2 linked regions of the Homo sapiens genome follow. The protein of the gene in region 1 purifies or fractionates together with the protein of each later gene. This does not show direct contact. Each region holds a gene or a part of one and is shown in the gene's direction. Other genes may lie near its edges.

The links. Proteins that work in one complex are often made in the same cells at the same time.
Region 2: the proteins of AMZ2 (region 1) and LARS2 purify together in Homo sapiens (co-immunoprecipitation; one large-scale study listed by IntAct). This does not show direct contact.

What each region holds. Positions count from the first base shown.
Region 1 is NC_000017.11:68,250,995-68,254,460, forward strand, and holds part of AMZ2 (archaemetzincin-2), read left to right. Parts: intron 1-55; coding exon 56-184; exon of another isoform or gene 185-393; intron 394-3,409; coding exon 3,410-3,466. UniProt on the Homo sapiens protein: Probable zinc metalloprotease.
Region 2 is NC_000003.12:45,489,491-45,493,150, forward strand, and holds part of LARS2 (leucine--tRNA ligase, mitochondrial), read left to right. Parts: intron 1-2,026; coding exon 2,027-2,310; intron 2,311-3,660.

The sequences.
Region 1 (3,466 bases):
CTGAGTATATGTATATAATATACACTCATACATTTATGTATTTCTTTTTAAATAGGGGACATCCTGAAGTTCTTGAAAAAGAAGAAACCTGAAGATGCCTTCTGTGTTGTGGGAATAACAATGATTGATCTTTACCCAAGAGACTCGTGGAATTTTGTCTTTGGACAGGCCTCTTTGACAGATGGTATTCCGTTTTTGGCATTGTTGTTAGAAGCTTCTTCAGCTTGAGAATATTTGAAGATGTTAGAAGAGGGAAAAAATTCCAACCAAGAATCATATTGATATTTAAAATATTTTCAGTTGAGACATTATGCCATAATGGGAAGTGTGCTGTTGGTAGATTGTGATAATCTAGGTTCTGGTTGGCCACTCACTACCTACAGGACCTTAAAGGTAACAATACCCACATCATGGAGTCATTTGGAGATAATTTACATAAAAGTGCCTGTACATAAAAAGTGTGGATAAGCCTGGACAACATAGACCACATGTCTACAAAAAAATAAAAATTTAAAAAACTAAATTAGCTGGGCATGGTGGCACATACCTGTAGTCCTAGCTACGCAGGAGGCTGAGGTGAGAGGATTGCTTGAGCCCAGGAGGTTGAGGCTGCAGTGAGCCATGATCGAGCCACTGCACTCCAGCCTGGGCAATAAAGTGAGACCGTGTCTCAAAAAAAAAATGTATATATAGGCCTGGCATATATATAGGCATACAGCATAACAGCTAGTAAATGTCAGTAATTCAGTAGCAAGGTGAATTAAACCAATTACAGTTTGAGCTATCAATGGATGTGAAAATCTTGCTAATTATTTTTCAATTCTTTTCATAGTCATCTTGCACAGTTAGAATAGCCATAGACTAAGTGTATGCTTCTTTCTCATCATACGACATTTGTTTTTTAATTTAAAGAGTCAAAACGTCCATCTTTGATTTGAGATATGTAATAAACCTTGACTCATTAGGAACTCTGTATGGTAATATTAGGGATGGGAAAGGTTCTGCAAACCGGTCATATTTTTAACCTTTTTTTTTTTTTGTCATCTCTCTACTTCTCCCCTCCCCTTAATTATTGTTCTTATTTCTCTAACTTCATCCCTAAGAATCCAACACAGACTTGAAAGGGAAAAGGCCCCCTAAGGGGAGTGGTTCATTAGTGTTCTGGGGATGGGGAGTAAGTACAGGGACTATCCTGAGAGTTTATGGTCTGTCTGGATGTTACATTAGCCTTAGGATTTGTGTGGGGTGGTAAGCTTTTTGGGACAAATGTTTCTACTAGAGGTGGGGGCTGTAGGGTTATAGAGCCTCTTCCCACTTACTCCTTTATTCTTTATTCTCCATTTATGTGAGGTTTCTTGTGGCCCCCATGGCCCTACCAGCATGCACTCTTGGAGACGTGGGTCACTACTTTCTTACTGATTTTGGTGGTGTGAGGTAGCTTTTTATCATAAGTTTTCTCTTTTATTATTAACCTGATAGAGATGGAAACATTGAAAAATAATTCTATCTACCTTTTATTTTTCTTTTGAGACAGAGTCTCCCTCTGTCACCCAGGCTGGAGTGCAGTGGTGTGATCATGGCTCACTGCAACCTCAACCTCCTGGGCTAAAGGGATCATCCTGCCTCAGCCTCCCGAGTAGCTGGGACCACAGGACCACCACACCCGGCTATTTTATTTTATTTTATTTTTGGCCAGATGGGATTTTTTTTGGCCAGATGGGATCTCCCTGTGTTGGTCAAGCTCATCTTGAAGTCCTGGGCTCAAGCGAGCCTCCCATCTCAGCCTCCCAAAGTGCTTTGATTACAGGTGTGAGTCACCACACCCAGCTAAAAAAATAATTTTAAAACCATATGTTCGTTTATCTAGATATTGCTAGCTAACTTATCTTATGTGTTTGAGGAGGTCAGGAAACATTTCCCCAAACTGTATTTACTTTAATTCTTTTTTTGGTAAGTTTCTTAAATATTACATGACATAAAAGATTTACATAGGAAAGTAGCAGGATTAGACAGTGACAATATCTTAACACAGTGGTCTTGTTTTCTCCGAGTTTACAAAGATTGATATTTTTAAAGTGAGACGCATTGACTACGAAAAAAATAGTCTATTTGTAGGATTATTGGAAGAAGGAAATGTCCTTGCTGAAAGTAGTGAAATATGCTCACACTTGATTGGCCAGAGGGGGTTACTTGTGATAAAGGAATAGATTTAGTGTGCTCTTAATTTCCAGAATGCTATCTTTGCTTAATTTTCAAATATCAGTCTACATTTTCTGGGTAAAGGGAGGTGAGGAAGTTTGTTTTTGAATCAAATTAGATTGGACAAATCTACTATGGGTTTATTACTTTAAAAACTGAACGAGAGACATAAATAAAAGTGATCATGTAAACAAGTCGAATTATGAAGCAGTACCCTGTAGGGTGAGTTATGTAGCAAACCGTGTTCTCTGTGCTTGCAGAGATGGTTGATATAACTCTAAATGTAACACAGGAAGTCAGTTACAAGGGTATTTATTCTGGTCACCAGACACTAGTGACAGAATAGAGTTGAGCTGTTCTTTGAAAAGGGGGTAGGGTTGGGGAAGGGGACGAGGTTATTCTGTCAAAAGCCGTGGTTTAAAGCATGGGCTTCAAGACATCAGGGGCAGTTGTCCTCAGTCAGTGCTGCGTGAGGGAAGGCCAGCAACCCCTCCAGACACACGTGTAACAGATCTGTTTAGTGTGTCCTTAAATAGTGAAATCATGACTTCCTATTGTTCATGTGATTTTTTTTTTTTTGAGACTGAGTATCACTCTATCGTCAGGCTGGAGTGCAATGGTGCGATCTTGGCTCACTGCAACTCCGCCTCATGGGTTCAAGCCATTCTCCCGCCTCAGCCTCCCTAGTAGCTGGGATTACAGGCACCTACCATCATGCCTGGCTAATTTTTTTTAGAGACAGGGTTTCACCATGTTAGCCAGGCTGGTCTTGAGCTTCTGACATCAGGTGATCCACCTGCCTCGGCCTCCCAAAGTCCTAGGATTACAATCGTGAGCCACCACGCCCAACCCATGTGGTTATTTTTTATGATTCCTTTTTGAGTACTTGATTTGGAGTACTTGCTACTTTCAGAAAAAGACTTCTTTTGTGGGAAAAGACTCTCTGAAACTTCAGTTTCTCAAGCATTTGACCTCAAGTCCATTAAGTTTTACAAGGCAAGGCAAAGTGGATAGCAGCAAAAGATTTTGATAGGGAAATCTGGGGCAAAAGTCTTCCTTTTTGGTGGCAAACCATAAGTGTATCAGATGGTGTGGACACAGTGACACAGAGATGCACTCACTGGCCAGATGGGCCAGCAGTCTCTTCTTTCTTTGGTCTTTCTTCAGGGACCTTACTCTCATTCTGTCACTGTTTGTCCTTTTTTTGTAGGTGTGGGGATATTCAGCTTTGCCAGGTATGGCAGTGATTTTTATAGCATGCACTATA
Region 2 (3,660 bases), on another chromosome or scaffold:
TTTACACTTCTAACGAGTTTCCAGATACTGCTGCTAATGCTGCTGGTCCAGGGAACACATTTTGAGAATCAAGGGCTTAGAACCTTGCCACTTAATGTCTGGTCCCTGGACCAGCAGTACTGGCATCACGTGTCTTAGATCCCACCCTAGTCTAATAAGATCCCTATATGATTTGTATGCACATTAGAAGTTTGAGAATACTGGCTTAGAGCACTCTTAAACTTAACTGCACATTGGAAACACCTGAGAGTTTTAAAATAATACTGATGCCTGGGTCTCACTCCAGATACTCCGATTTGATGGTTATTGGTGGTGAGGGGGGCATGGATCAGACATCAATAGTGTTCAGAGCTCCCTAGTTGATTCTGATGTGCAGCAGAGTCTGGGAACTACTGACTTAACATAGTGATGCCACACCTGGCCATGGCTCTGAATCACCTGGGAGGTGCTTACAGGTCCCATCTTGGCTGATCTTGATTCAGTGAGACCTGAAGATCCAAGTTTTTCAGGTTTGTGACTATCTGGCTATATTTATATCTATAGAATAAAGGAATAATGGTCAGGTTTTCTCCTTTGTAAGGAGTCCATGTTTTATAACCCCATGTTTGTGGCTTTACTTCATAAACTGCATCCCCAGACATGAGTCATGCTCTAAGATATGGACCCTTAGGCCTTTTTTTAGACCTTGTTTGAGCAGGTTTCCTGGAGGTAGAGCAGAGCGAAATCACAGTGTCTGTAAGGAGCCCCAGTTAACCCTCTACAGGGCAAGAAAGGGGACACTTGTGGCCAAAATTAGGCTTCTGAAGTGCCTAGTGAAGCATCCACTCTTTAGTACAGTACTCTGAGCATTAATTATGCTTCCTGGCTTCTTTCACACAGCTTCAGATGGTCTGTTGAAGCCTCTCCTGGCTCTAGGCTGAATATCTAGAGTAAAATAATTATTTCAATAAGTAGAAGGAGAATGGCTGGGGAAAAGCCGCTTTCATCTATGAGCTTCTGGAATGGAAAGACAGTGGTGTTAGGAGAAGACTGACTTTCAGGAGAGCTTTTTATGATTTGCATCACGACTGTGATAATGGGAGTGCAGAAAGACACTTCAGACCATTCATGAAAAGGGCTGCTTTTGATAAACATAGCTGTATTTTCTTATTCTTTATGCCTCTTGACTGTAAGCTCCTTGAGGACATGGGAAGATCATATTTATCTTTGTGGCCCCAATGGCTAGCACGAGCCCAGCACGTATAGATGCCCAGTGGGTCTTCACTGAACAAATGCGAGGGTACCCGCAATCCAGGTTGTTACCAAGCCACACTGGCTCAATTCATATAATTAGTTTGGCTCTCTGAAAAGCACCAAGTGAAAAGATAATTTCTCTTTTGTACTGTTAGTGGTCTGTCCTGCTGTCTATAAAACGGGAGCATTTAAATATAAAAAGAGTGGTCTGGTTCTTCAAGCCGAAGCCTCAGAATGTTCCTCTGCTTGCCTGAATTCCTTCTGCTTTAGGATAATATTGGATTTTTCTTTTCTGAATATTTTCCCCCCAACAGGGGAGTAGTCATTAAAAATCCATATCGTGCAGTTCTGTACTGGCAGCTAAAAGCTGATATTTGATGATCTCTGTAGGTGTCACAGGGCTCTGGTGATAAAGCAAGCCACAGAACCAGGGCCAACTTAGACACATTAGACACAGTAGACACAGTGCCTAGGGCCCACAATACTTTTAGAGGCCTCTGCAAAAGTTTTAATTTCTTTTAAAATCAGAAGAAAAAAATGAACTTTTAGGGTCAAAAGTTATATTTGTCTTTATATTGATGCAGTTGTAAAATATAATTTTTAATATTATCTGAAGGAGCAAGGAGCCTACAAAGGCAGAAGCACCTAGGGCTCATGAAAGTTATGACACAGCTCTGCACAGAACTGGTCCCTTGGGAGAGCCACACATAAACATGGCAGGACTGGTGGCAGCATCAGGGTGGTGACTGGTGCTATGCGGAGAGGAGTGAGCTTTCTTTTCTTTCCCTGTCAGTTCACAGGTATGACCCGGCAGGATGCTTTTCTAGCCCTGACTCAGAAAGCCCGGGGGAAGAGAGTGGGTGGAGACGTGACAAGTGATAAACTGAAAGACTGGCTGATTTCACGGCAGCGGTACTGGGGCACACCAATCCCCATTGTCCACTGCCCAGTCTGTGGCCCCACACCTGTGCCCCTGGAGGACTTGCCTGTGACCCTGCCCAACATCGCGTCTTTCACTGGCAAGGGAGGCCCCCCACTGGCCATGGCTTCAGAGTGGGTGAACTGCTCCTGCCCAAGGTAAGGAGCCACATCCCTGCAGTGGTGACTGTGCCTATGGCCCCATACCTGCTAGGGCTTCAGACAGCCTCCTCCCTCCTGGTGCTAACTCTGCTCCCTTTTTCCCTGACTTCCATGAGGCTGGAAAGAACACTGTGGGTCTTTGGGGCCCTTTAAGAGAAGGGTCTGGAATCTGTGGCCCTGCCTCTGCAATGGGCATCCTCCCTTCTCTGAGCTGTTGGAAGCAGCAGTGTCAGTTCAGATCTATCCCAGAAACATCTGATCCAACTGATGGAAAAGCTCTAAATTTTCCTTACAGCTTTGTAAAAAACCACTTTCCTCCATTTTGATATTCCAAAGAGCCACGTGGAGAGGGGAGAAAATGTTCTCTTCTCCACCTTGCAGTTTTCCAATATAGTGACTGTAACAACAGTGGAGATTTTATCATGAGTAGCAGAGTAGTTGCTAAGAGAGCAAGTGTGCTCAGGGCTGCATTCTTTAATATGCTGAAGCACCATGGTTCCTTTCTCCTCATTTTGGAAGTGGGATTATGTTTTTCTGTCTATTCACTGGCATGTCTCAAGCATGATTTTTAATGATGCTGTCCATATCAGCTAATTAAACAAATAGCAGATACCAAGTTCCAGTATTTTCCTTCTTCTGCGGAGAAGCCATTTTTCTCTGCCTTATAGATCATGATGAGGATATTATAAAATAATTTTGTATTCTGCCAGTATAGAGCTGAGTTACTAGGTTGACAATTAGGTAACCACGTAGTGTAATTGGAAGTCTTGAGCTGGGTGTCAAATCAGTGATGGATTCAAGTCCTGGCTCTGCCTCCTAACTAACTGTCTAGCCTTGGGAAAGTCATTTACCTTCTCTGAGCGTGAAATCCCTCATCAGGAACAAAAATAACCCCATTGAAGGGCTTTTCAGAAGACTAGAATTAACACATGTGATCCTGCACAGTGATACCTTCTAGGCCTTCAATAAATAGAAACTTTATGGCCATCCAGCCAGGGACTTGCCAGCCATCCTCCCAGGTCCTCACTGAGGCAGTTTTGAAATTCAAGGTGGAACTTGGAGGGAGGTATATAGGAAGGCCCAGACCATTTTAGGGTAGAAATGTTGGCTCCAGGAGGAAAATAGCACACCCTCTTTGTTGATAAGCGCTGACAAAGGGCTTCCCTACCAGAGATGTTGGTGGCCTGCATACAGCACAGCAGTTGTGGCCTTATTGATGAGGATAAGGTTTCCTGCTTGGCTGCAGAATTACTGGAGGGCAGAACCTAGGCCTTGGTGTTGGGCAAGGCTCCCTGGATGATCTTTTTTTTTTTTGAGATGGAGTCTCGCTCTGTCGCCCAGGCTGGA